7 linked regions of the Homo sapiens genome follow. The protein of the gene in region 5 interacts with the protein of the main gene of each other region in a biochemical or structural test. Each region holds a gene or a part of one and is shown on either strand. Other genes may lie near its edges. The genes, in order: PAQR3, NRIP1, BCL2, CDC34, PPARA, SIRT1 and CEP350.

Region 1 (3,500 bases), on a different chromosome or scaffold from region 5:
ACCTTGATGGAGTGAGGTACTCCATAGAAGGAAACTTTCCATTATAACTGAAACATACCCAATTTGCCAGATTATCTTTCAGTCCATTTTTAAACTCTAGGAATAACATATTCCTTCTTAAACAGGGCATACTAGGTATGGGTTAACTTTAAAATCTGGGGTTTTCTGTTAATGCTATTTTACTTTTCCCTTGGATACCATAGTTTCTTTTTTTCCTCTTTTTATTTTCTTTTTCACAATGAAATGAGCTTTATGTTTGTTTCTAATTATTACTACAAGATATAATCATGTAGAAATTTAGGCAAACAGAAGTTTGTGGAAGAAAACGTCACCTGAAATTCCACTTTTCAGAGGTAACCACATTGGACATTTGCGTTAAACAATGAGTTTAACCCAAATGCGTATGTTTGTGTATGCATAGCTACCTTGCACCTGCCTACCTGCCTGCTCCCTTACCTGTCTACCTACTTCCAAGCTACAGTCATCTCTGCTTGCTATTTTGCGACCTGCCCTTGTGTCATTCAACATTGTGGCAATGGGATCTTTCCCCATCAATGAGAAATATACACTTTTATGTTCTCCTGATTTATGGTGCTTAATCTCAAGGATAATCTGAGAAAACAAATAACCAAACTTCTTTGAGTTACGTTTAAATAACTAACTTAGAATTAGTTACTGATTGGTTGCTTAGTAACCAAAAAGCTATAGACTATTAAGGATTTTAGACAATTGATGAAGCAATGAAGTTGTGGCAAAGTACATTGTTATTGAATACTGATATTGAGTCTATAGTAACTAGATTTGTTTAATGACCAGAATATAAAATATTAATAGCTAGATGACCATGTTACTGCCTTAGCAATAGCTTACAAAATGTTTATCATTTGTAACTACTTTATACTGTTTATTTGTCCCATTGCCTCCACCCCACTGTCACTGTCTCAGTGTTTGCTCTCCAGGGCTATTTCTGTAACCTCCTGTTTCAGCCCTTCTAGTCCACACCTCTGTTGGGGGGCACTTAAAATCTTCAGGAGTATCTTATCATACCCATAATATTGAAGTTAAAACCCATTAATGTATAGGAAATGTCATAATCATATTATAAAGAATATGATGCTTTTCCTTAATCCCTGCCCCCAGCCATAAATATGTGCACACCTTTTTTTATGTCCTTGGTGAATGCCAGCCCAACTTTTAAAATCTGCCTCAGGTGAACAGCCCTTCTCTGATACTTTTCTTCCCACCAGTCCCACCCTCCAAATGCACATGTACCTCCACAGAGTCAATATCCTCCCACCTTTTCCAATTATGCTGTGCACTGAAGTACAGTAGGATTTGTTACTGTACTGTTTGTTCAGTGATTCTGTATCACCTCCAATGTATGACATACAGCAGGTACTTAATAGCTGAAAGGCATTCTGCCATAGAACCTTATCAATTATCAGAACAGCTGATTGAATCAGATTAGCTTTACTCTCAGTTTGGCAACCATATAAAGTTAGCAAGTCATCACTGTTTTTTAAATTATTATTATTATTTTTTGAGACAGGATCTCACTCTGTCACCTAGGCTGGAGTATAGTGGGGCAGTCACAGCTCTGTCACCCAGGCTGGGGTATAGTGGGGCAGTCACGGCTCACTGCAGCCTCGATCTCCCAAGCTCAAGTAATCCTCCTGCCTTAGCCTCCCAAGTAGCTGGGACCACAGGTGCATGCCGCCATGCCCAATTTTTTTTTTTTTTTTTTTTTTTTTTTAAGAAATGAGGTCTCCCTATGTTGCCCAGGCTGGTCTCGAACTCCTGCGCTCAAGAGATCCTCCCACCATGGCCTCCCAAAGTGCTGGGATTACAGGCATGAGCCACTACTACACCAGCCTGTTTTTTCTTGAAGGCAATAAAACTGTGTTTACCTTAGAAATTAAAAGTAAACTCTATACAATGAATCTCATACAGACATGAACATTCTTAACTGAAAAAAAGCCAATTGTGGAACAGAATGCATAGTGTGATTTCATTTAATTTTAAAATGTGTGTGTATATATATATATATATATATATATAATGTGTGCATGTGTATAGACTAATATATCACAGGTGTTTGACATATGTATTGAAAATATCTGGAAAGACACATAAAAAATGTTATCACTGGCCACCTCTGGGGAATAGATTGAGTAAGAGGGGCTTATATTTATGTTCTTTGATTTTTTTAAGGCTATATATTGCTTCTATAGTAAATACTCTTTAAAAACAAATTAATTCATGGATCAAAACAAGCCTCAGATGATAGTTTTAAAACATTTGCATTGTATAACTTTCCCATTACTGTGCTATTTATTTATAATTTTCATTTTGTAATATAGTTATTTTAAATTTTCTCCTTCATTATTATTATCTACATTTTACCCATGAGGGAACTGAGGCTTTCCCTCATGGCTCTACATGGCTCTACATGTAGAGTGAGCTCTACAGTAGCCATGTAAGGCACAGAGCTAGAATCCAAGCCCATAAATGTTTGAATTGAAAGCCTAGCCTCTTAACTACTTCCCTGAATATCATGCATAAGTTGCTTTAGTTTCTTTAGTCACTTTGTTAATTTGTTTTTATTTTTCACAGGTCTGTATGCTTTGCTCTGTGGGCTATCATCTTTTTTCCTGCCATCGGTCAGAAAAAACATGTCGAAGATGGATGGCATTAGATTATGCAGGAATTTCTATTGGAATACTGGGCTGCTATGTCTCAGGAGTATTTTACGCATTTTATTGTAATAACGTAAGTAGATGAAAACATTTTACATTCGACCTTTCATATTGGTCTTGGGTTTTCTTGCCTTGGTTCTTTTGAATTTCTGAATAAGTACATAATTAACTTATAGACTAAATAGAAGAGTCTCGTATAAGCATAAACTTATTTTTCAGAATGGCCCTGTCATCTCTAACATCTGTTATCAGTTCCATACTTACTTTACTAATTTTCTATTGGAAAATATATATACAGTTATTTTCTGAAACTTAATGTAGACATTAAATTATTAATGTTTTCACTAAATCTATATGGCTGCGTGGTTCCTCAGATATGCACATTATATATCTTTTATTTGTGTGTTTATAGAATTGAAGTTAAAATTAACACTTGTTAAAATTATGAAGTTGGTTACTGCTTACCATTTCTTTTTTCTCCTCTCAGTGAAAAAAAATACAGGAAAATATATCTGAATTTATTAGCCCATATTCTTCTGTAAAATATGTTTTCCTGTCTTCAGTCTTATGTTTGGGGGTAGGCTTGTAAGACAGACCAGATAGGAGTCAGTGTCTTTAACAAATGTGAGATGTGTCTTTTCTGAATTCTGGATCAACTCTGCTTTCTGTCACTAAGTTCACACAAAAGTCAGTTTTTGCCTTGTGCAAAGCAGCATTTGCAACACTGTAATCAGATAATACAGCACCTGACCTAAAAATATTGGCCAACCAAACCTTACGGAGTAGAACCCTTAACTCATCACC
Region 2 (3,500 bases), on a different chromosome or scaffold from region 5:
CTCATGACCTTTGTTCCACTTTGTCCAACATGATGAGGAGACTCTGCAAACCTATCTCTGATGAGGTTTTTAGTCACATCAGGAAGATTCGTATCAGGCTTTTGATCTTTAACTTTACTTTTCTTCAACAAAGTTTTTAAGTGACTTGATGCAACACCATAGCACCTTAAATCCTTCTCCACTTTTAAAGAATCATGACTGAGGGCATATCCTTGCTCCTTGAGGCTCTGCCTGATTTGTTGTGACAGAGCAACAGTCTGCAGCCTAGAGCTGAATGACTGAAGCAAAGAGGCCAGTAATGTGCTATCCTGTTTGCCTTTAGGCACACTGTCAACCATGCCAGCTAGCAAAGCTTCCTTCTTTACGTTTAAATTCATGATAGAATCAGACAGCCTCTTCCGCTTTGCTGCATTCCAGTCCTCAGAAGACTGCAACAGTCTGGCTTTTTTGAGGTGCAGCATGCCAGACCCCTGATATGTATGTGTATTGAGAACTGGACCATTACTTTGACAGGTGGGAAATGCACTGCCAGAAATGTTAAAGTTCTGATCCTCTTCATTATGCCCAGCAGACTTTTTGTCAACGGCAGTACCTGATCCCCCTGCTGCCTGATGCATTAGTAATCCTTCTAGGTAAGTTAAAACAATAGAATCCTGGTGCACATCAGAGCCAAGCTCTTCTCCATGAGTCATGTTCAATAGAAGTGTTCACAAGGGCTTGGTTTCTATTCACTTTAAAGAATGGTTTTCTGTGGTGAGTGCGATGTAACTTTAATAAAGGAGTATCAGTTTATCACCTTCCATCGCAATCAGAGAGAGACGTACTGTTACATTCTGTCCAAGATTTCTTCTGGCAATGACAAGATAAATGCAGTCTGACCACAGTGCTGATCAACTTCTACGCAAGGAGGAGGAGAAGAATTCCTTAACACATAGGTCTGTAGCAGTAAGCAGATAGAATCCTTAGTGAATATATTCCTTTTCCTTCTTCATCTTTTGTTCCCCATTAAATGCAAATATCAGTGTTCTAAAAAAAATAAAAATAAGAATAGTTAAGGAGGCAGAACTAGAATCACGTTATGATACCTACAAGCAAAATAATATAGCATCTGTAAATGTATATATATATTACATATAAATAATAGACATATAAATGGATTATAGTCACTTTAGTAATTTGTTTTATTGCCGTTCCTATTCAATTGAAAATGTCTACTGGAAATCCTGTGGGTTAATGCATACTGTTAAAATGATCAAATCATTAGAGAAGAGAACATACTTTAATGTTACATAGCCATCTTCCAAAGCCGCCAAGTCTCTGAATTTTCATAAGCACCTTTCTGCAAAGTAATGTGAATGTTCAGTCTCCTTTATAGCTTTATAGCTCTACAGGGGAACTAGAACTTGCTTCCTTACATTACTGGGCACTTAGGAAGAAACAAAAGTAGATGTGCAGAAAAAGGAAAAGAGATGCAGACTCTGATGAGTCTGATGTGGGGTTGAGGCCAACAGAACAGATTCATTTCTGACATCATCCCCCAAACACCAGACATTCCATAAGTAATTTTTAGAATTTCCGTTTTCAAAAAAATGAAACCACTAACAAGTTGAAGATTATTTTGTGAGTCTGTTCAAAGTGTGACCATCTTAATCATATTCATAAACATTAAAATACAGTCATAAACTTACCTACCCATACTTTTTACCATGACTTATTAAAGACAGAGAGGAGTGATTCTTTAGATGCTTGTTCAGGGCTATCAAGGGTTTAATGTAGTTCGTTAGTAAATCCTTACTCATGTGCTCTATGGAGAAGTCTTAATGTCAGGTCCATTCCTTACAGATACAGAAGACAGGGAGGGCATAAACATATATAAAAAGTACAATGGAGAATGCCAAAGACATTTTAGTCACAGTTTGAAAAATATTCCAATGATATTTATTATCTAAGAAGAGACCAAAAAATTTCCTATCACTAACACATACACAACAGAAGAAGCAAGAACTCATTGCATTTCTGAAAACTTGATAGGTAAGTGTCAAAATTGACCTAAGGAAGGGGGGCCATGACACCTTTGGAAGAGAAGCTGGAATAAATTCCATGCAGTTTGTTTTTCAAGATGCCAGAACATTTTGTTTAAGTTATCAGACCTGAAGCTATCAACAAATACCTTGGTCCCTATGGAATTTAAAAGATAAATTTTAATTGAAAGACTACCCTGTAGCTTTTTAAGTACAATGCTTAACTCTAAGTCAAACTTTAGGAAATAATTATCTGATTGTATCAAATTGTTGAATTTATTGATTAAAAGGATAAGAAATGATAGCCAAAGAAAAAGATACAGAAAGGAGGCAGCAACAATTAATTTCAACTGTGTAAGGAGTAGGATGAGAAGAGACTTTCTTGAGATTCCAATGCCACCATTTTAAGAAGCTTTGCCATAATGTACTTAAGATGGATATTTTAAGAGGTTAATAATGATATAGAAATGAAATGGTTATCATGACTGCCACCAAATATCCATTCTCCCATTTTCATTTACTAATAAAACCCTGACTTGTTTTTCAGGGAGTAGGGAGGTATCCCAGCTAAACACTACTTTTCTCCCCCCTCTGGTTATATTTTACAATTGATGGCATGTTGCTTAATTGGAGGCTTATTTTTCTTTCTTAGTGGTATAAAACATACGGGTACATTTTACAACTGATAACATCTTGGAGTTGAGGAAACCCAGTTTTCTAATTCTCTCAAAAAACTTAATATGGCCAGGTACGGTGGCTCACACCTGTAATCCCAGCAATTTAGGAGGCCGAGGTGGGTGGATCGCCTGAGGTCAGGAGTTTGAGACCAACCTGACCAAAATGGTGAAACCCCATCTCTAGTAAAAATACAAAAATTAGCCGGGTATGGTGGCATGCGCCTGTAGTCCCAGCTACTCAGGAGGCTGAGGCAGAAGAATTGCTTGAACCTGGTAGGCAGAGGTTGCAGTGAGCCGAGATCGTGCCACTGCACTCCAGCCTGGGTGACAGAATGACACTCTATCTCAAAACAAACAAAACAAAAATAACAACTGCTAATATACAATTAATTCTCAACTAGTTAAGACATTTAACAACCATTTAATGGGATATGCAAGTCCACTGTATTTCTCTCCACACCACTGCCAACCTTTTTGCTCTTGGGTAGACTCAAGAAAGTCAAAATCATACCAGTCATTTGAAAACTGGTTTGTAAACAGCCATAAAACATACTTTATTTAAGAATAAGAATGAAATAAGGAGCATCTTTGAGTTCATATTACTCCTGTTATTGCTTTCTACTTTTTACTGTGCATGATATAATTTGCAAAGTATTATTCATTGCTTTAAAAAGACTGAATTTACACATTTCTGAATTTACAAAGCAGATTTGGAAGTTGATTTAAAAAGGAATTATCACAGTTTCCTTGTAAAGGAGCTCTAACACTGTATTTTACCATTTATTTACCTCTCTACCATTTA
Region 3 (2,462 bases), on a different chromosome or scaffold from region 5:
TAAAGTCACAGAATTAAGGAAGCACCTCAATTTAGTTCAAACAAGACGCCAACATTCTCTCCACAGCTCACTTACCTCTCTGTGTTCAGATGTGGCCTTCCATTTATATGTGATCTTTGTTTTATTAGTAAATGCTTATCATCTAAAGATGTAGCTCTGGCCCAGTGGGAAAAATTAGGAAGTGATTATAAATCGAGAGGAGTTATAATAATCAAGATTAAATGTAAATAATCAGGGCAATCCCAACACATGTCTAGCTTTCACCTCCAGGATCTATTGAGTGAACAGAATTGCAAATAGTCTCTATTTGTAATTGAACTTATCCTAAAACAAATAGTTTATAAATGTGAACTTAAACTCTAATTAATTCCAACTGTACTTTTAAGGCAGTGGCTGTTTTTAGACTTTCTTATCACTTATAGTTAGTAATGTACACCTACTCTATCAGAGAAAAACAGGAAAGGCTCGAAATACAAGCCATTCTAAGGAAATTAGGGAGTCAGTTGAAATTCTATTCTGATCTTATTCTGTGGTGTCTTTTGCAGCCCAGACAAATGTGGTTACACACTTTTTAAGAAATACAATTCTACATTGTCAAGCTTATGAAGGTTCCAATCAGATCTTTATTGTTATTCAATTTGGATCTTTCAGGGATTTTTTTTTTAAATTATTATGGGACAAAGGACATTTGTTGGAGGGGTGGGAGGGAGGAAGAATTTTTAAATGTAAAACATTCCCAAGTTTGGATCAGGGAGTTGGAAGTTTTCAGAATAACCAGAACTAAGGGTATGAAGGACCTGTATTGGGGTCGATGTGATGCCTCTGCGAAGAACCTTGTGTGACAAATGAGAAACATTTTGAAGTTTGTGGTACGACCTTTAGATTCCAGAGACATCAGCATGGCTCAAAGTGCAGCTCCGTTTGGCAGTGCAATGGTATAAATTTCAAGCTGGATATGTCTAATGGGTATTTAAACAATAAATGTGCAGTTTTAACTAACAGGATATTTAATGACAACCTTCTGGTTGGTAGGGACATCTGTTTCTAAATGTTTATTATGTACAATACAGAAAAAAATTTTATAAAATTAAGCAATGTGAAACTGAATTGGAGAGTGATAATACAAGTCCTTTAGTCTTACCCAGTGAATCATTCTGTTCCATGTCTTTGGACAACCATGACCTTGGACAATCATGAAATATGCATCTCACTGGATGCAAAGAAAATCAGATGGAGCATGAATGGTACTGTACCGGTTCATCTGGACTGCCCCAGAAAAATAACTTCAAGCAAACATCCTATCAACAACAAGGTTGTTCTGCATACCAAGCTGAGCACAGAAGATGGGAACACTGGTGGAGGATGGAAAGGCTCGCTCAATCAAGAAAATTCTGAGACTATTAATAAATAAGACTGTAGTGTAGATACTGAGTAAATCCATGCACCTAAACCTTTTGGAAAATCTGCCGTGGGCCCTCCAGATAGCTCATTTCATTAAGTTTTTCCCTCCAAGGTAGAATTTGCAAGAGTGACAGTGGATTGCATTTCTTTTGGGGAAGCTTTCTTTTGGTGGTTTTGTTTATTATACCTTCTTAAGTTTTCAACCAAGGTTTGCTTTTGTTTTGAGTTACTGGGGTTATTTTTGTTTTAAATAAAAATAAGTGTACAATAAGTGTTTTTGTATTGAAAGCTTTTGTTATCAAGATTTTCATACTTTTACCTTCCATGGCTCTTTTTAAGATTGATACTTTTAAGAGGTGGCTGATATTCTGCAACACTGTACACATAAAAAATACGGTAAGGATACTTTACATGGTTAAGGTAAAGTAAGTCTCCAGTTGGCCACCATTAGCTATAATGGCACTTTGTTTGTGTTGTTGGAAAAAGTCACATTGCCATTAAACTTTCCTTGTCTGTCTAGTTAATATTGTGAAGAAAAATAAAGTACAGTGTGAGATACTGGTTGTGCCTGGAATTGTTTATAATGTGTTAACATGATTTTGCCCTGCCATTCATCATCATTACACAAGACTTTGAAAAGCCTTCTTAACAAGCCAGTAAAATCACCAGGACCCTACTCTAATGAAGCCCTCAGGGACCAGGCTAAGGGATTGCCTTACAGGTGAAACCACCTTAGAAGGAGACTCTTGTTTCTTGGTAATAACCCTCCTGGTTAGGTACAAGATAGACCAGTCTTGAGTTCTACTCCCTGGGAGAGCTACTGTTGCTGTTGAGTGTGTTCTTCCATATAGACCAGAGATCCCAGCCTCTGCATTTTATAAGATGAAATGTGTATGAAAAAGAGGGAAATAAGCTGAAAGTTCTGTTTTGAAGTCAACATTTTTAGATGGAACCAAAGCAGCTACTTGCTTTGGAGCAGGTGAACCCTAAATGGCAAGGGATCTGATGTTTCCCACTGGGTTCAGGTCCTGATACCCTAATCCTCAACCCTTCAAGTCACA
Region 4 (3,500 bases), on a different chromosome or scaffold from region 5:
ACCAGGCCAAGAGCCTGCAGGGACGCACTCCAGACATGAGTAAGGCCAACACCCCTGACTAACAGTCAGTCACTGGGCACACACAGCACGACCCCATTTTTTCATTAAAGCACAGACACATGTTCCCTAACAGTCAGTCACTGGGCACACACAGCACGACCCCATTTCTTCATTAAGGCACAGACACATGTTCCCTAACAGTCAGTCACTGGGCACACACAGCACGACCCCATTTCTTCATTAAAGCACAGACATGCGTTAAACTGAAAAGCCTGGAAGAATCTATGAAAACACTAACCACCAGGCCAGGTGCAGTGGCTCACGCCTGTCATCCCAGCACTTTGGGAGGCCGAGGCGGGTGGATCACCTGAGGTCAGGAGTTTGAGACCAGCCTGGCTAAGATGGTGAAATCCCACCTCTACTAAAAATTACAAAAATTAGCTCGGCGTGGTAGTGGGCACCTGTAATCCCAGCTGCTTGGCAGGATGAAGGGGGAGAACTGCTCCAACCCGAGTAGTGGAGGCTGCAGTGAGCCGAGATCGCACCACTGCACTGCAGCCTAGGCAAGAGAGTATAACTCTGTCTCCAAAAAAAAAAAAAAAAAAAAAGGCCGGCCGCGGTGGCTCACGCCTGTAATCCCTGCACTTTGGGAGGCCGAGGCAGATGGATCACGAGGTCAGGAGATCGAGACCATCCTGGCTAACACGCTGAAACCCCGTCTCTACTAAAAATACAAAAAATTAGCCGGGCGTGGTGACGGGCGCCTGTAGTCCCAGCTACTTGGGAGGCTGAGGCAGGAGAATGGCGTGAACCCGGGAGGCGGAGCTTGCAGTGAGCCGAGATCGCGCCACTGCACTCCAGCCTGGGTGACAGAGAGAGACTCTGTCTCAAACAAAAAAAAAGAGGAAAAGGGGCAAGAAGCTGGGCTTGAACCTGGCTGGACCCTCCGCCACTCGGCCCGGCCTCCATCTGTGACTGGCACCCTGTAAATGGGCACCAGGAAGCTCCGCCACCCTCACCAGGAAGGTGGGGCTGGGCGGCCGTGGGACCAGGGGCCGGGGTGCAGGCCGGATCTGAGTCTCTCCTCCCGTGACGCCCCCGCCCGCCCTCACCGGATGATGTCTGTGTACTCCCGATCCTTCCCCTTGCTCTCTTTCCACTTCCTGTACATCACGGAGGCGTCCACGTTTGCGGGCGAGAAGGTGTTGGGCTCGTTCAGGAGGGAGATCACACTCAGGAGAATGGTCCTGTGGGGAGAGTGGGTCGGAGTGGGGCGGCCCGGGGCACCCCAGCCTTCCGGCTCTTCTCTGGCCCTGAGGGTCACGGGGACGCCTGGACCCACCCAGCAGGTGACCTTCACCTGGCCTCATGGCCTCTGCTTCTGTCTCAGGCCCCCAGAACAGCAGGGGCTGGACCTGCATCAGTCTCCTCCCTCCCACGCCAAGACCAGGGAGGGCAGCAAGGTGCAGACCCCTCCGTCAGACCCGGGGCTGCCCTCACACCCGCACGTCCTGCCTAGACTACACTCCAGGACACACGGGCAACACGGCCCAGTGCTTGTACCTGGGGACGAGGCCCAGGCGGCACACGTGGCACGAGGTGACCAACCCAGAGACGGCTGGGTAAGGAGAAGGCCCCAGGACTGAGGATGGCGGGACACCTCTAGGTGGTTCCAGACGGTGGGGCCGGCCTGGGGTCCTGGTGGGAGTCTGCACCGACACACGGTGCCGCAGGCCCCGTGAAAGCACCTACCGTGCAGGTACAGCGAGGCCCAGGACCGCCAGCTGGCAGGTCCCGAATCAGGCCTTGGCGCCACAGCCTGTGGGGGAGCCCGGCCTACCTGATGGTCTGGGTGGATACGGGACGGAGCCCGGCCTACCTGATGTTCTGGGTGGACACAGGGGGTTGGGCCGGCTTACCTGACGTTCTGCGTGGGGTTCCACCTCTCTGAGGGCAGCTCCCCGCTCTGGGGGTCGTCCACCGGCGGGTGGAGGATGGAGATACACACGTCCCCCGTCTGCACAAGAAGAAGACAGGTCAGAACAGGTCAGAGGTCAGCACGGGCTCCCAGTGCCCCAGGTCCCGGAGGATGAGGACGTGGAGGACGAGGACGTGAGGCTCCCAGCGCCCCGGGTCCCGGAAGGACGAGGACATGAGGCTCCCAGCGCCTCGGGTCCCGGAAGGACGAGGACGTGAGGCTCCCAGCGCCCCGGGTCCCGGAGGACGAGGACGTGAGGCTCCCAGCGCCCCGGGTCCCGGAAGGATGAGGACGTGAGGCTCCCAGCACCCTGGGTCCCGGAGGATGAGGACTTGAGGCCCGTGGGGGCCGCGCTCACCTCGTAGATGTTAGGGTGCCACATCTTGGTCAGGAACCGAAAGGCTGGTGGAGAGTATGGGTAGTCGATGGGGAACTTGAGGCGCGCCTGCAGGGGCAGAAGGCAGGTGGCTCAGTCCAGCCCAGCCCCAAGACCTGCCCCAGCTCACAAGGTGCCCAAGGCCATCCCACTCCCAGTGCTGGTGCCTGAGGGTGTGTGTGAGGGACACCGTATCCTGCCCAAGGCAGGGACTCTCACAGGCCTGGGGTCAAGTCCCCAGAAGGCTGCCTGAAGCCTTTTCTGAGTCACCCGAGCTGATCCCAGCTCCTACACAGTCCAGGTGGCCGGGACCCGGCCCAGCACAACTGCTGGGGAACGTGGGCACTGGCTGCCCGCGTGGCTCCAGGCCCGTGGCAGCCCAGGTCAGGCATATGGGACCCAGGCCAGGGGCACCCACCAGCAGACAGAATGGACTGGCAGGGGCTCCAGGCTCCCCTTGGATGGAGCTGAAGCCCAGGACCAGGGCTGCACCTCCAGGGCCTTGGCAGCCAGGGTGTGGGGAGGGTTAGCACAGATGATTGCTCAGTTAGCAAACACTTGTGACACCTGCCCTGGCCCAGGCCGTGGGAGGGGATGAGTCAGTATGGCCGTCTGCCCTCAGGTGTCCGGTCTTGGGGGGTCAGGCAGGCAGACCCATAGGTCACAGAAACCTGGCAGGACTCCTTCCCTGTCAGCATCGCCCCCTGTGGTCACCCAGGCCCTGGAGGTCCAGATCTGCTGGCAAGGACGGCCACAGAGGGAGGCCTGAAGCCACGTGCCAGGTGACAGAGCTGTCTGGCCTGCAGCCTGGGGCGTGATGCCACCCACGGCCCTCCTGGGCCACAGCAGGTAAACAAGGAAGCCTCACTGTTTTCCTGCTGGGCCCCAGTGCCAGACACAGAGGTTGTCTGGGTCAGGGGTCCTGGTGGCACTCAGCACTCCAAGGCACGAGAGCAGCACCCCCAGAGCGATCGTGGTGGAAGCCTGGACAGGGAGGGCACTCAGGGGGTCTTGGATCGTGGGCGAGGTCTGGACAGGGAGGGCACTCAGGGGGTCTTGGATCGTGGGCGAGGTCTGGACAGGGAGGGCACTCGGGGGTCTTGGATCATGGGCGAGGTCTGGACAGGGAGGGCACTCGGGGGTCTT
Region 5 (3,500 bases):
GGAAATTGGCCATCAGAGACACAGAGTATCTTGCTTAGGGTCCCACAGCCCCCAGCAGCAGGGACTGGAACCAGAGACTGGCTGCTCCTGCTCCCCAGCAGTTCCTTCCTGCACATCAGGGGCTTCTCCACCTGATTCAAGCGACAGGAACCCCCTGTGCATCTTCATCCTCCTGCTGGCTCAGCCTGCCCTAAACAGATGTGACCTGGGCCAGGAGTGCATGAAGGCAGGCCCTGTTGTCCTGCATGCTGCCAGCTGGACTGGTGGCCCTTCCGTGTTTGTCAGCGTGGTGATGAGGAGAGCTCCTGTAGCAGCGTCCCTTTAGGGTTGCACAGACGTGCTCAAGTCTGGCGCCTTATGTACGTGATATGTGGGAGATCATCATCTGAATGTTTGGTTTGAATCAGAAATCCCTTCTCACGGTGCACGCTGCAGGTGTTCACTAACTTGGAAAATGCCACCGCCTTTCTGGCACAATGTACCATCTTGGAACACCAGCATTCTGCCCTGAGCCAGGCCTGGCCTCAGAGGCCTGGGCCACAGGGAGAACCTCACAGCCAGGACACTGTGGCACTCTGCTGTCTAGAAGCCTGTCTCCCCACCCTTCCCATTCTAACCCCATGCGTTCCTCAGCCTCCCCACTGTGCAAGCCTAGGTAAGGACATTATGAAGACGTCAGCCTGCCTCTCACATTCCCCTGCACACTGCTGTCCCTCTCCCGCGGGCCAAGCAGACCCACTGTGGCAAAAATATAGAAGAATGACTTAAAAGCAAAGAGAAAAAAGAACCCAAAGCAAAAATGAACTCCTTCGCATGTTTTCTAACCATATACCTTTGAAAAAGCTCCTTATAAAGTGGCCTTTTCCTTAGGGCCATGATTAATTATTCATTTAGTTTTGTTTTTTATGGACTATTTAGTAACATTGTTTCTTGCTGGGTAGAGTTTAAGATGCTTTTACAAAGCAAGAAAATTGTTTACAAACAGCTGGCTTCCTTTTATTATAATTTTTGTCTTTGAGGGAGTTAATATACTCTTACAAAAATTCTTAGAAAGTCTTTAGTCACAAATATGGAAATGTCACAATGCTGGGGATAGTTACATTCATATACATTGTAACAAGGCTGAGTAACTCTTTGGAAAACTATAATTGTGTTTTCCCAAGTCAGATGAGGGCATTTTGAAATGACTTCGAATGCTGCCTCATTTTATTGTTTTTCACATTAAATGTAACGACATTTAAAGTTCTGTATTTGTCCTAATCATTCCAGACTTCTTAGAAGAACTATTTCTTTCTTTTTTTTTTTTTTTTTTTTTTTTTTTTTGAGATGGAGTCTCACTCTGTCGCGCAGGCTGGAGTGCAGTGGCACAATCTCAGCTCACTGCAACCTCCGCCTCCTGGGTTCAAGTGATTGTCCTACCTCAGCCTCCTGAGTAGCTGGGACTACAGACTTACATCACCATGCCCGGCTAATTTTTGTATTTTTAGTAGAGACAGGGTTGCACCATGTTGGCTAGGCTGGTCTCGAACTCCTGACCTCAGGTGATCCACCCGCCTCAGCCTCCTAAAGTGCTGGGATTACAGGCATGATCACCATGCCTGGCCTGGAATAACTTTTCTCTAAATTTTGTTCATTTAAAAAGAAACAATAAATGAGCAACAAAAAAGGTGAGTAAAGCAAGTGCGCTGGTTTCTCAGTGGCCCAGGTCTTTAAATCCACTGTGTATTACCCTCACAGGGCTTCTTTCGGCGAACGATTCGACTCAAGCTGGTGTATGACAAGTGCGACCGCAGCTGCAAGATCCAGAAAAAGAACAGAAACAAATGCCAGTATTGTCGATTTCACAAGTGCCTTTCTGTCGGGATGTCACACAACGGTAGGTAAGGTGGCCCTGCACATTTTCCCAGTTCGTTCCTCAGTTCCCCTTCCTTGCTCCAAGGGAACAGATCAAGCTATGGATGAATGTGCTTCAACATTTCACACCCAAGTCATTTTGTAATCAGAGTGGCCTAAGAAAATAAAAGTCGCCCAGGCGCGGTGGTTCACGCCTGTAATCCCAGCACTTTGGGAGGCTGAGGTGGGTGGATCACCTCAGGTCAGGAGTTTGAGACCAGCCTGGCCAATATGGTGAAACCCCGTCTCTACTAAGAATGCAAAAATTAGCTGGGTGTGGTGGCACATGCCTGTAGTCCCAGCTACTCGGGAGGCTGAGGCAGAAGAATCGCTTGAACCCGGGAGGCGGAGGTTGCAGTGAGCTGAGATTGCGCCACTGCACTCCAGCCTGGGCGACAGAGGGAGATTCCGTCTCACAAAAAAAAAAAAAAGAAAAAGAAAGAAAGAAAGAAAATAAAAGTCTCCCAGGTGCGGTGGTTCACACCTGTAATCCCAGCACTTTGGAGGCCGAGGCGGGTGGATCACTTGAGGTCAGGAGTTTGAGACCAGCCTGGCGAACATGGCAAAACCCCGTCTCTAATAAAAATACAAAAATTAGCTGGGCATGGTAGTGCACACCTGTAATCCCAGCTACTTGGGAGGATGAGACAGGAGAATAGCTTGAACCCGGGAGGCGGAGGTTGCAGTGAGCTGAGATCGCACCACTGCACTCCAGCCTGGGCGACAGAGTGCGACTCCGTCTCAAAAAAAAAGAAAAAAAAAGAAAAAGTCTCAAATAGCTGAGATTCAGTGGTGCATTGGACTCGCTGTTAGAAACTTCAGTGGTAAGACTTTGATACAGAATCGAAAAACCAAGTGGAAGGCACCAAAATGACAGAATGTTCACCTCGTCCATAGGAAGGGTGTACCACCTCAAACATCTCACCACGTTATGAATTTCCTTCTAGCCAATCATTTAATAGTTTCAGAACATGCTAATTGTGATGTGAATGTAAGTCGTTCATAAGAGTTGCATGTCTACCTTCTGGAAAAAGAAGCAGTTATTATATAAACTCATCCCGAAGCCCCGTTCACCTCCTTCACTCAAAGGTTGATGATGCACCTGATAGTGGTGTGCACCCTACTAATGAGACGAACGATGGTGTCACCTTCAGCCTGCACCTGTTAACGATGGTGTCACCTTCAGCCTGCACCTGTTTAAACATCTACAGTGTATGGAGTTTGAGTTTTTCATCTCTCCATAGTGGAAAGCCGAATAGTAATGAAGGATGGGTCTGAACTGCCTGTGAATTTTCATTCCTGGTTTAAAGTCCTGGGGGAGCCCCTCGTCCAGCCCTGTCCGCGCAGTCATGACCTCACTGCTCATGCCTGTGTTTCCCCCTCCAAACCCTAGCGATTCGTTTTGGACGAATGCCAAGATCTGAGAAAGCAAAACTGAAAGCAGAAATTCTTACCTGTGAACATGACATAGAAGATTCTGAAACTGCAGATCTCAAATCTCTGGCCAAGAGAATCTACGAGGCCTACTTGAAGAACTTCAACATGAACAAGGTCAAAGCCCGGGTCATCCTCTCAGGAAAGGCCAGTAACAATCCAGTAGGTGTTTG
Region 6 (3,500 bases), on a different chromosome or scaffold from region 5:
GGTACATACTAAAATTTATTAAGTGGCGACTGGCAGTTTAACTAATTGACATTCTCTTGTGTTAGGTTAATACAGGGGTTGGCGTACTATGGCCTCAGTCCAAATGTGGCCCACTCCATGTTTTTGTATAGGCTGTGAGCTAAGCATTAAGCATTAATTTATTACTTAAATCAACAAATAAAGTTTATGTGGTGTACAACATGATGTTTTGATGTGTGTACATTATGGAATGGCTAACTCAAGCTAATATTCATTACTTCACATACTTTTTTTTGGTGGTGAGAACATTTAAAATGTACTCTTAATAATTTTCAGGTATACAATATTTGTTTTTGTTTTTGTTTTTGTTTTGAGACGAAGTCTCGCTCTTGTCCCCAGGCTGGAGTGCAGTGGCGCTATCTTGGCTCACTGCAACCTCCGCCTCCCAGGTACAAGCGATTCTCCTGCCTCAGCCTCCCAAGTAGCTGGGATTACAGGCGCCTGTCTCCACGCCCGGCTAGTTATTGTATTTTTAGTAAAGACAGGGTTTCACCATGTTGGCCAGGCTGGTCTCAAACTCCTGACCTCAGGTGATCCGCCTGCCTCAGCCTCCCAAAGTGCTGGGATTACAGGCGTGAGCCACCGCGCCCGGCTACAATATGTTCTTAATTATAGTCAGCAATAGATCTCCTGAACTTATTCTTCCCAGCGTCTTCCCAATCCCACCTCCACCCCCTGCTAATAATTAATTTTAAATGACTGGGGAAAAAATTGAAAGAACTGTTTCATGACACTTGAACATTATATAAAATTTTCATGTCAGTGTTCATAAATACAAACTTTTATTAGAACATAGCCATACTATTTATATATTGAAATACAGTTGAATTTGTCATATGACCAATTTATTAGTATTGATTAAGATGTTGAGCAGTTTATTCAAGTGTGGTTTTGTGGAATGAAAGAGACAGGAGGGATTATGAGGACTCTCCTTAGCAGGATTGATGCATTTCACTTTTTTTGACAGGAAGGAAAGTTTAGGTTCTATTTTCTCAGCAACTCTACTTAACTGCCTCCATCTGAACTATATATAGGAGGGGGTGGATATCAGCAAAGATTAACATCAGTAAATTTTGATGAATTCTCTAAAAATTCTGATTTTTAAAGAGGGAATTTTGGCTGGGCACAGTGGCTCACACCTGTAATCCTAAGCACTTTGGGAGGCCAAGGCAGGTGGATCACCTGAGGTCTGGAGTTTGAGACCAGCCTGGCCAACATGGTGAAACCCTGTCTCTACTAAAAACAAATTAGCTGAATGTGGTGGCGCGCACCTGTAGTCCCAGCTCCTTGGGAGGCTGAGGTGGGAGAATTGCCTAAACCCAGGAGAGGTGGAGGTTGCAGTGAGCCGAGATTGTGCCATTGCACTCCATCCTGGGTGACAGAGCGAGACTCTCAAAAAAAAAGGTGGGTGTGAATTTTGTTATGTTGTGCGGGCTGGAGTGTAGTGCCCATCCATTGGCACGATCATAGAGTACTACAGCTCCCTAACTCCCAGACTCAAGTGATTCTCCCTCCTCTGTCTCCCCAGTAGCAGGAACTACAGGCCTGTGCCACCATGCCCAGCTTTCTTAGTCTTGAGGGACTGCATTTACACCTATGCCTTTTACTCTAGGGTCTTTTATTCATATTGCTAGAAATTTGGAGAAGAAAGAAAGGCATAATCTCTGCAGAAAAGCCATTATTTCTGCAGATAGTTCTTTTTTTTTTTGAGATGGAGTCTTTCTTTGTCACCCAGGCTGGAGTGCAGTGGTGTGATCTAGGCTCACTACAAGCTCCACCTCCTGGGTTCACGCCATTCTCCTGCCTTAGCCTCCCGAGTAGTGGGACTACAGGCACCCGCCACCATGCCCAGCTAATTTTTTTTTGTATTTTTTAGTAGAGACGGGGTTTCACCATCTTAGCCAGGATGGTCTCGATCTTCTGACCTTGTGATCCGCCGACCTCGGCCACCCAAAGTGCTGGGATTACAGGCATGAGCCACCACATCCGGCCAATTTCTGCGGATAGTTCTAAGCTTTAGTTTTGACCACGTTGGTTGCCTATGGCCAATTCCTGGATTATTTGCATGTTTCCAGACACAGCTATGTGAAAGCAGGGTTTGTTTTAATAGTGTTTTGAGCCTTTGATTCCAGTTCTGCTTCCACTCTTGGTCTATAAGGATCCCTATGGCAGCAACAGAATGGCCCAGCCCTCATGATTGGTTGCTTAAAAAGGCTTTAGGATATTCAAACTGGGTGGCCTGTCTTGTTTGGAATAGGACTAAGCATGTCACACTTTCACCATGGAAGAGTTAATCCATATTCTATCTGTAAGTTGTATCTCCAGTCATTGGTTTTCAACAAGTGGTCCTATCTTAGGAGGAGTGGTATATTAGAACAGTCCTTCCAGAGTAATTTTTTTCATTATTTCAGATTTTTTAGTTTTTTTTGTTTGTTTTTTTTTTTTTTTTTTTTAAAGGCTCTCACTCTGTCACCCAGGCTGGAGAGCAGTGATACGATCATAGCTCACTGGAACCTCTACCTCCCTGGGCTCAGGTGATCCTCCCACCTCAGCCTTCTGAGTTTCTGGGACTACAGGCATGAACCGTGAGGCCCAGCTAATTTTTGTGATTTTTGTGTTTTTTGTAGAGTCAGGGTTTCTCCATGTTGCCCAGGCTGGTCTCGTACTCCTGGTCTCAAGTAACCTGCCCGCCTCGGCCTTCCAAAGTGCTGGGATTAGAGGTGTGAGCCACCACACCTGTACTACTACTTTTAGTTTGAACACTATATTTAAATCTAATAATTCAGACATGGCCCATTTCATACTTGACAGAAAGTATGAGTCAAAGACTCAAATCATTCAGATTCTCACATATGTAAAACGTACGCTTGGCCGGGTGCAGTGGCTCACGCCTGTAATCCCAGCACTTTGTGAGACCAAGGTGGGCGGATCACCTGAGGTCAGGAGTTCAAGACCAGCCTGACCAACATGGAGAAACCCCGTCTCTACTAAAAATACAAAATTAGCTGGGGTGGTGGCACATGCCTGTAATCCCAGCTATTCAGGAAGCTGAGGCAGGAGAATCACTTGAACCCGGGAGGTGGAGGTTGTGGTGAGCTGAGATCGCGCCATTGCACTCCAGCCTGGGCAAAAAGAGCGAAACTCTGTCTCAAAAAAAAAAAAAAAAGCAGGCTTATAAAATAAAACAAAAATGTCCCTTATGATTTGTCTTAAAGGTAGTTGAATTAATAAGAGCTAAATCTAGTGTCCCATACATCTTTGTGTTTCTTACTCTACCCTTTAGAAAGGGTGGGGGTGGACGTGGATAAGGCACACAGTTAATTCAGGGACGGTGGAGTCTTGGTACTTGCTCTTTTTCCCTGACCTTGCTTTGGAGTTATTTTATTTTTTAAATTCTGCATTTGGCATGCTATTATCACTTGCTTACTATTATAGGTCCTATTTTATCTGTTGCCTAGCAT
Region 7 (3,500 bases), on a different chromosome or scaffold from region 5:
GTCATCACTAAATGAGGAAAAAAAGTCAAAACAACAACTGGAAAAAATCAGCTTACTGACAGACAGTTTACTAAAAGTCTTTGTAAAGGACACAGTCAATCAACTACAACAAATCAAAAAAACCAGGGATGAGAAAATCCAGCTTAGCAATCAGGAGCTTCTTGGTGATGACCAAAAGAAAGTAACACCCCAAGACCTATCCCAAAATGTTGAGGAACAGTCGCCAAGTATTTCAGGTTGCTTCTTAAGTTCTGAATTGGAAGATGAAAAAGAAGAGATTTCCTCTCCAGATATGTGTCCCAGACCGGTGAGTATTTCGTCTAGAAAAAGTATCAGTATACCTTTTGACACTTTTAACAAGGCAACTTACCTTGCCTATATAGTACATTTTAATTCTGTGACTCCTGATAGGTTTTTTTTCCCTTGACGTGTTGTTTATTAGAGAAGGATCACTGTACTGGTTTTTAAAGGCCTTGTAGCTGTTTTTCCTGGCTGAAGTGTAATTGTCCTCTATTATGTCATGAGTAGTCAATATAGGGTTGTCACAAGCACTGGCAGGTTTTGGGGAACTAAAACATCCATTTAAACTGCTGAGTTGACAACCCCTGTACTGTCCATAGATTACATCTCCTTCCAGATTCACTGAACAAATTCGTTCCATGGAGCTTTCCAGTGGCTCACCACCCAATTCTTTTTTGCCTGTGAAATTGTTTACATATCTACTCAGTCATGGTTGGCCTGCAGAGGTTAGCAGTTGTGATGTTGATTCTGGTAAAATGAAATAGATCCACTATGACATGCACTCAGACCATCAGCTTGTTTATGTTGCCCATGGACAGTTGAGCAAAAGTAATGACTTTGAGTAACTTGAGCCAGATGGTCACCAGAGGTGAGAAATTTTATATCCCATTTCCATATCCCATAGACAGTTCTTTAGAAACAGAATAATGATAATACAAAAAGCGGGGAGAGCCCTAATCAATAAACATTTTATAAAAATTCAGTTATATGCAAGGTTTATATAAGTAGAATTGAGGGAACAGGATAACTTTTTCTTAGATTGTTTATTAGTAGCCACCATATTGTTTTTTATTCTGCTTACTTATAGAGAAATATTAGATATATAAATAATGCATTTACTCTGTCTTTTTTTAAAAAAAAATGATATGAGGTCCCTAAATGGTGCTCTGTTTGAATGGTTCCATTTCTATAGGAGAGCCCAGTATTTGGTGCCAGTGGGCAGGAAGAACTTGCTAAGAGACTTGCTGAACTTGAACTCAGCCGGGAGTTCCTGAGCGCGTTAGGAGATGATCAAGACTGGTTTGATGAAGACTTTGGTTTGAGCTCTTCTCACAAGATCCAAAAAAATAAGGCAGAAGAAACCATTGTACCTCTAATGGCAGAACCTAAAAGAGTAACCCAACAACCATGTGAAACATTATTGGCAGTCCCCCATACTGCAGAAGAAGTAGAGATTCTTGTACATAATGCAGCAGAAGAACTTTGGAAATGGAAAGAATTAGGCCACGATCTTCATAGCATCAGTATTCCTACAAAACTGCTTGGCTGTGCCAGTAAAGGTCTAGATATAGAAAGCACTAGTAAAAGGGTCTACAAACAGGTAGGTGAAATAAAAGGATAATTTTAGTTTTTAAACTTTTCTCCCATTGTCTGAAATTTGGATTCTTAGCCATTTTGTTTTGTTTTGTTTTGTTTTTCTCTATCAAGGCGGTTTTTGATTTAACAAAAGAGATTTTTGAGGAAATATTTGCTGAGGATCCCAACTTAAATCAACCTGTCTGGATGAAGCCATGTAGAATCAACTCTAGTTATTTCCGACGAGTGAAAAATCCAAATAACCTTGATGAAATCAAGGTAAACTGCAAACTATAAAGTGTCTTCTTTTTTGACTTGCTGTTCATTTACACATATCTGTAAATGTTGTAAAAGCAGGTGCTCTTCTGTATGATTAACCTTTGTGTCTTCAGGACCTGTTCCATAGTGGGTATTCAATAAAGATTTGTTGACTTACTGAATCCATGAACAGTGGAGGGATTGGAATGAGTGAAAGGGCTGAATCCTCAAGTTTGTGCAAAAAAAAAAAAAAATTCTTTTACCAGTCATTTTCTCTATATACATAATTATAATATTTAAGAAAAATTAGGAAATACCTAGGGAGATAAATTATTGCAACTAATAGGAGTTTTAGGTAAGTTTTGGGGGCTTTAGAGATAGGTATAATGTTCTAAAAGTACATATGAATACGTGTCATATATATGTCTTTTCAATATGCCAGCCCTGGACACATAGGTGTTAACTTCTTTATCTTTGACTTTGGAGGTTTCAAATTGGTAATGTGGTTTTGAACTATGTAGGATAGTAATGTGATACGTAAAAATATTTATTTTGTTATCTAAGAAACCTTTGTAAACCTTTGTCCAGAAGCTACAAGGACTATGAACTTTAAAGTCACATTGCTGGCAATCTGCTCTGCCTAGTCACATGTTTCTTTACGGCAAAGGTTATATTTCCAGAGCAGTGATTCTCAACTTTTAATGTGCATGTGAATGATCTGAGGATCTTGTTGAAATGGAGATTCTGATTTAGTAGGTCTGGAGTAGGACCTGAAATTCTGCATTTCCAACAAGCTCTCAAGTCATGCTGGTCCTGCTGGTCCTGCTGGTCCTGCTGGTCCCAGGACCACGCTGAGTAGCAAAGCTTTAAACTTGTATTTCCCAAACTTATTTGATCACAGAAAGCCTTTAAAAATATTTTATACTTATAGAACACCAACAGATATTTATGAGATGGGATGTATGCTTACCTCAGGGGTTGGCAAACTATGGCCCATAAGCCAAATCCAGGCCCCTGTATGTTTTTATAAATAAAGTTTTGTTGGACCACAGCCATACCTAGTTGTTTACATGTTACAACTACATGTAACTACAACAGTGGAATTGAATAGTTGTGACAAAGACCACATGGCCCGCAAAGCCTAAAATATTTACAGTCTGATTTTTTACAGAAAAAATTGGCCATCCCCTGGCTTAAAGTAACTAGCTTTTTAAAAACACATTGTATACTCCATTCCTTCTACCCTTTCACAATTGAAAATGCTTGAATGCTATGTGTGTCTGTGAACAGGTAGGGAGTGATGGAATTTCCGGGCACGTTGGTACTTTGAGAATCTTTCCAGGTGATTCTGATTCATAAATGTGTCCCTTCCCCTGTTAAGAACATTGTTTTTTTAACAGAACAACCATAAAAGTAACAAAATAAATTATTAATAACATTAAGTTGAGGTAAGACAAGATATATAATATATACCAACAATCAAACTACATGCATCAATATAGCATACAATAAATGCCCACTAATTTTAATATTGACATAACATTTTGTAAAGTTTTTAAGGGTGATAGTTCAAATATTGTTAGTAGTAAAATTATTATGCTTCTCATACTGAAGTGTTGATATTTTTTAATTTAACATATTTGAGT

Evidence for each region.
Region 1: the proteins of PPARA (region 5) and PAQR3 form a complex in vitro, tested with the Homo sapiens proteins (one study listed by BioGRID).
Region 2: the proteins of PPARA (region 5) and NRIP1 form a complex in vitro, tested with the Homo sapiens proteins (one study listed by BioGRID).
Region 3: of the proteins of PPARA (region 5) and BCL2, one has a biochemical effect on the other in vitro, tested with the Homo sapiens proteins (one study listed by BioGRID).
Region 4: the proteins of PPARA (region 5) and CDC34 form a complex in vitro, tested with the Homo sapiens proteins (one study listed by BioGRID).
Region 6: the proteins of PPARA (region 5) and SIRT1 form a complex in vitro, tested with the Homo sapiens proteins (one study listed by BioGRID).
Region 7: the proteins of PPARA (region 5) and CEP350 form a complex in vitro, tested with the Homo sapiens proteins (one study listed by BioGRID).

What each region holds. Positions count from the first base shown.
Region 1 is NC_000004.12:78,929,439-78,932,938, reverse strand, and holds part of PAQR3 (progestin and adipoQ receptor family member 3), read left to right. Parts: intron 1-279; exon of another isoform or gene 280-353; intron 354-2,613; coding exon 2,614-2,769; intron 2,770-3,500. UniProt on the Homo sapiens protein: Golgi-scaffold protein which modulates its interactors acitivies by anchoring them to the Golgi apparatus. Functions as a spatial regulator of RAF1 kinase by sequestrating it to the Golgi apparatus.
Region 2 is NC_000021.9:14,967,501-14,971,000, forward strand, and holds part of NRIP1 (nuclear receptor-interacting protein 1), read right to left. Parts: intron 1,027-3,500; 5' UTR 693-1,026; coding exon 1-692. UniProt on the Homo sapiens protein: Modulates transcriptional activation by steroid receptors such as NR3C1, NR3C2 and ESR1. Also modulates transcriptional repression by nuclear hormone receptors.
Region 3 is NC_000018.10:63,122,846-63,125,307, reverse strand, and holds the end of BCL2 (apoptosis regulator Bcl-2), read left to right. Parts: 3' UTR 1-1,962; downstream 1,963-2,462. UniProt on the Homo sapiens protein: Suppresses apoptosis in a variety of cell systems including factor-dependent lymphohematopoietic and neural cells. Regulates cell death by controlling the mitochondrial membrane permeability. Appears to function in a feedback loop system with caspases.
Region 4 is NC_000019.10:534,760-538,259, reverse strand, and holds part of CDC34 (ubiquitin-conjugating enzyme E2 R1), read right to left. Parts: intron 2,424-3,500; coding exon 2,337-2,423; intron 2,018-2,336; coding exon 1,920-2,017; intron 1,248-1,919; coding exon 1,113-1,247; intron 1-1,112. UniProt on the Homo sapiens protein: E2 ubiquitin-conjugating enzyme that accepts ubiquitin from an E1 ubiquitin-activating protein, and catalyzes its covalent attachment to other proteins by an E3 ubiquitin-protein ligase complex. In vitro catalyzes 'Lys-48'-linked polyubiquitination.
Region 5 is NC_000022.11:46,216,526-46,220,025, forward strand, and holds part of PPARA (peroxisome proliferator-activated receptor alpha), read left to right. Parts: intron 1-1,737; coding exon 1,738-1,876; coding exon of another isoform or gene 1,877-1,880; intron 1,881-3,286; coding exon 3,287-3,489; intron 3,490-3,500. UniProt on the Homo sapiens protein: Ligand-activated transcription factor. Key regulator of lipid metabolism. Activated by the endogenous ligand 1-palmitoyl-2-oleoyl-sn-glycerol-3-phosphocholine (16:0/18:1-GPC). Activated by oleylethanolamide, a naturally occurring lipid that regulates satiety.
Region 6 is NC_000010.11:67,901,656-67,905,155, forward strand, and holds part of SIRT1 (NAD-dependent protein deacetylase sirtuin-1), read left to right. Parts: intron 1-3,500. UniProt on the Homo sapiens protein: NAD-dependent protein deacetylase that links transcriptional regulation directly to intracellular energetics and participates in the coordination of several separated cellular functions such as cell cycle, response to DNA damage, metabolism, apoptosis and autophagy.
Region 7 is NC_000001.11:180,094,310-180,097,809, forward strand, and holds part of CEP350 (centrosome-associated protein 350), read left to right. Parts: coding exon 1-307; intron 308-1,213; coding exon 1,214-1,621; intron 1,622-1,728; coding exon 1,729-1,875; intron 1,876-3,500. UniProt on the Homo sapiens protein: Plays an essential role in centriole growth by stabilizing a procentriolar seed composed of at least, SASS6 and CPAP. Required for anchoring microtubules to the centrosomes and for the integrity of the microtubule network.